Linked DNA regions of Homo sapiens: region 2 is linked to region 1. Evidence: fine-mapped expression QTL. Tissue or cell type: whole blood. Region 1 holds a variant in brackets; the other region holds the start of a gene. All regions are shown on one strand. Distances are from middle to middle.

Region 1 (2,500 bases):
GGGGTGGGAGACAGGGTATACCAGCCAGCCAGGGACATCCTGGACATTGGTGCCTGGGATGTGCTGGTGGTGTCAGGCCTCAGGGAAGGGCTCCTGCAGTGAAGGAGTTCTCTCAGGGAAGGTCCCCAAGAAAAGTGCCCTGGCCTGGCTCTTGCCAGGCCCTCAATAAGGGGCCTGGCTGTTGCCAGGTGGTGGTGGTGGGAGGGTGATGGTAGCACTTTTCTCATACATTACCTCACAGTAGCCTTGCAAGATAAGAGTTGCTTTCCCACATTACAGATGAGGAATGAAGCTCAGAGAGGTAAAATAATTTATCCAAAGTCACAAAGCTCGTAGGTTACACCAAAGCCAATGCTCCATTTGGGGAGGCATCTTTAATAAGCAACTGGAAAGGATTCAAGTGCCAAAAAAGCAGGGACTGGGAGAAGTCCTACAAAGGCAACCTACAGAGTGATTCTTTTTTGTTTCATTTTTGTTTGCTTTAAGGCATCCGTGGGTAAAAATATCTAAGAGCTTATCTCAGCAGAATTCAGCTAGTCACTGTGTAACATCACCTCATAGCTCCAGACCATTCTGAACTCTTCCTCCCCTGATGCCCAGTTTTCTCTTTTTCTGACCAGGTTACCTCCCCCTTCTCTGCCTGCACTTTCCTCTCCTTCAGGAGGTCTGCAAAGTGACCTTAGATCTACCTGTGCCACCTAAGGACTGTGCAATGTGGGTCAGGCTCAGCCCACTCTGGTGCCCTCAGTGTCCTCATCTCCAAAATAATGGGGTTGACCTACTAGGATTTCACTATGGCAACACCACTGGTGTTTGGGGTAGAATGATCTCTGCACTGTAGGACATCCTTGGCCCTGCCTACCAAATGACGGTAGCATCCCCCAGTTTTGGTGACAACAACAACAAATGCCCACACATTTCCAAGTGCCCCAAGGGTACTAGGTCACTCTCGGCTGAGAATCTTCTTAGACCAAAAGCCATGAATATCTGTTTGTATCTTTCTCTGAGCCAGGACCATTTTCCTTCTCAGAGTCCTCCTGTGGGCTCCACAGTGCAAAGCTACTGCTCGGGGACAGCAGCAGGAAAGCGTAGTGGTGTCAGGGCCGGGCATGAGAATGATGCACAGCTGGGTTGGAGCTCCAGGTCTGTTCTCACAAGAGGTGTGTCCTTGAACATGTTTCCTAACCACTCTGAACCTCTGTTTCATCACCTCTTAAATAA[G/A]AACAACAATGGGACCCCTCCAGGGCTCTTTAACCCTAAGTCCAGTGCCTAGGCCATGGGGGTGCTTAGGAAGTGTTGGTTATGAATAGTATGGTAAGGTCTCCCTCTGGCTTTCCACCCATTGAACTTATCCCTTACAAAACTCTTTGCTGAAATGATTGAATTAATGATTTGTGCACTCATTTACTTATTGCTTCCACTCCCTGTTAGACTAAGATTCCTAGAAGGCAGAGAGGATCTGGGTCTCTCTAACACTCCATTTTGTCCCCAGGGCATGGTACACAGAAGGCACTCAATAAACATTTATGGAGTGGCTGAAAAAATGTTACCTCTCCCTTGTCTTTACTGTCCAGTGCCCACTGCCTTTAGTAGCAGAGTAAAGACAAATCTTTTTTTTTTTTTTAACCTGTAGGAGAAGCCGGGATGGAAACTCCAAACACCACAGAGGACTATGACACGACCACAGAGTTTGACTATGGGGATGCAACTCCGTGCCAGAAGGTGAACGAGAGGGCCTTTGGGGCCCAACTGCTGCCCCCTCTGTACTCCTTGGTATTTGTCATTGGCCTGGTTGGAAACATCCTGGTGGTCCTGGTCCTTGTGCAATACAAGAGGCTAAAAAACATGACCAGCATCTACCTCCTGAACCTGGCCATTTCTGACCTGCTCTTCCTGTTCACGCTTCCCTTCTGGATCGACTACAAGTTGAAGGATGACTGGGTTTTTGGTGATGCCATGTGTAAGATCCTCTCTGGGTTTTATTACACAGGCTTGTACAGCGAGATCTTTTTCATCATCCTGCTGACGATTGACAGGTACCTGGCCATCGTCCACGCCGTGTTTGCCTTGCGGGCACGGACCGTCACTTTTGGTGTCATCACCAGCATCATCATTTGGGCCCTGGCCATCTTGGCTTCCATGCCAGGCTTATACTTTTCCAAGACCCAATGGGAATTCACTCACCACACCTGCAGCCTTCACTTTCCTCACGAAAGCCTACGAGAGTGGAAGCTGTTTCAGGCTCTGAAACTGAACCTCTTTGGGCTGGTATTGCCTTTGTTGGTCATGATCATCTGCTACACAGGGATTATAAAGATTCTGCTAAGACGACCAAATGAGAAGAAATCCAAAGCTGTCCGTTTGATTTTTGTCATCATGATCATCTTTTTTCTCTTTTGGACCCCCTACAATTTGACTATACTTATTTCTGTTTTCCAAGACTTCCTGTTCACCCATGAGTGTGAGCAGAGCAGACATTTGGACCTGGCTGTGCAAGTGA
Region 2 (2,500 bases), 37 kb before region 1:
TAAATATATATATTTCCACACATACATACTTAATGCACACACACATATGTATATAATCAGCCCTCTGTATCCATGGGTTCCACATTTGTGTATTCAACCAATCACGGATCAAAAATATCTGGGAAAAAGCTCCACAAAGTTGCAAAAACCAAGCCTTGAATTTGCCACGCAGCAAGTGCTATGTTGACTCCACATGAATGAAGCGCTCTGTATGCGTTGTATTAGGTATTACAAGTAATCTAGGTACTTGTATTTAAAGGGTACTGGAGGATATTTGTAGGTTATCAGCAAATACTACATCATTTTATATAAGGAACTTGAGCATCTATGAATTTTGGTATCTGCAAGGGTCCTGGAACAAATCCCTCACAGATACTGAGGGAGGACTTTGTATATATAAAAATGTATGTGTGTGTGCGTATATATATATATATATATATGTGTATATATATATATATACACATATATATGTAAAATTATATTTTTGCTATTTCTTACAAGTCAATATAAATAAACACAAGCTATTAAGTGTAAGCTCTTTGGAGTAGTCATATGCACATAGTTGAGAATTTGTGAAAGTATAGGAGGGTAACATGGGCACAGATGTTGACTAAAGAGGTATAAAGGGCCAAGTTTGGGTGAGTGCTACACGCAAACTTATCATTGTGTGGATGGGAGACAGAAAGGGAAAATTAGAAAAAGCAAGAAGAAAATGGAGATATGTGGCCATATTTTCTCCCACTCTGGCCCCATACTACCTCTAAATTGCTGTGTACCTTCCTCTCCTCCCTCCTAGATCCAAGAGCACTGCTGGAAGTTACTACTTCCACCTGCCTGGACCCCTCCTTGTTCCACCTCCCTTTTCCTGGAAAAGCGACACCTACCTGAAAATCTCTTCTAAGTAAAAACTTCTATTGTATTTCGATAAGTTCTTGCCCGGATAAGCACAAGAAGACCAGTGGTACCTGCTAATTTAGTGAAGTCCTTGATATGTCCAGTGATAGCTTAGGCGTCACCACTCCTGAAACAGAGATACCATCAGATCACAGACATTAGTAAAGTAGTAAACAATGTAAGTATATAACTTCCTGTTTTAAACAGACTAGCTTCTCAGTTTTGCAAGTTTTCAGAAAGATACTTTCGTGCAGTTCTTCTTTTTCATGATTGACACCACATACTAACCAGTCACCTGAGAAATCCTTGCAATTAGTGCTGCTTTAGGGGCTCTCCACCCATTGGCATTGCTCATTTTTAGTGGTGGGGGGTTGTTATAATTTTTTTTTTTTTTTTAAGACAGGATTTCATTCTGTCACCCAGGCTGGAGTACAGTGGCATGATCTCAGTTCACTGCAACCTCCACCTCCTGGGTTCAAGGGATTTTCCTGCCTCAGCCTCTGGAATAGTTGGTATTAGAGGCACATGCCACCATGCCTGGCTAATTTTTGTATTTTTAGTAGAGACAGGGTTTCACCATGTTGGCCAGGCTGGTCTCAAACTTCTGACCTCAAGTGATCTGCGAGTCTCGGCCTCCTAAAGACCTGGGATTTATAATTCTTGAATAAGCATTGATTTGACTCATCGGGAGACAGGATGAAGAATGAAATAAGAATTTCCCGGCAAAGGAATAAACTAATTATTCTGCAGGGTCCAGTAGACACTTGGATGGGGCAAAATGTGGCTGCAAAGGTTTAGACAAGTCTAAAAGACTTGAGTTTGAGTTTCAGTTGTGGCATACACAGCTACATAAGCTGGGGGTAGTAATTTAAACTTGCTGGACCTCAGCTTTTTCATCTCTAAACTGGAAATAATGATATTTAAGTCATAGCATTGCCGTGGAACCAACTAAGATAAATATGTGAAAAGTCTCTGCAGAATATACAGGGCTAAGGAAATGTAAAGTGTGGGTAGAATGCCACTGTGACATAAGCGTCATAGGGCAGAGCCATGTCTCAGGGCAAAGCGTCACAGGGCAGAGCCATGTGCCTGCTGTATGTGCTGATGTGTCCCTTGGGACCTAGCATGGCACTGGGCACAGAGCAGGTATTCACCCAATATTTGTGGGAAGAACTCTGACTAAGCATGAAGTGATCTTTGATACACTGACTAACTCGACAAATGAGTGTAATGCACCAAAGTGTTTATCAAACGTTTGATATGTGTGTAGGACTGTGCTGTATGCTTCATGATAAAGAAAACATAGGAACAAAAGACAAAGAAAGAGGAAGGAGGATAAGAGAGACAGAGAGAGAGAGAGAGCGCACACACATGTGCATTAGAGAGAGAGAGAAAGAATAGGGAGAGAATTTGAGAGAAAGAGAAGAAAGGGAGGAAGGGGCTCAGTTTCCACCTTAAAGAGTCTATAACCTTGTTGGTGATCAGAGACAACAGAGACCTGATAAAATATCAAGAATGCTCAAATATAGTTAAAGCATAACCAAAGAAACATTTCACTATTTAATCTACAGCATATTCAATATAGCATATTCAAATTGGCTAAAAC

What was found. PIP is the estimated chance that this variant, and not a neighbour inherited with it, causes the effect.
Region 2: CCR3 starts here. The variant in region 1 is fine-mapped to the expression of CCR3 in whole blood (TOPMed, PIP above 0.99).

The regions. Positions count from the first base shown.
Region 1 is chr3:46,203,458-46,205,957 of GRCh38, reverse strand. It overlaps CCR1 (C-C motif chemokine receptor 1), which reads left to right. Exons shown (of 2, transcript NM_001295.3): 2 at 1,634-2,500. The coding sequence starts at 1,645. Among named protein-coding and RNA genes, the nearest start is that of CCR1, 3.6 kb to the left of the region's middle. The variant G/A (reference allele first, on the strand shown) is at 1,222.
Region 2 is chr3:46,240,923-46,243,422 of GRCh38, reverse strand. CCR3 (C-C motif chemokine receptor 3) reads right to left here and starts at 963. Exons shown (of 2, transcript NM_178329.3): 1 at 885-963.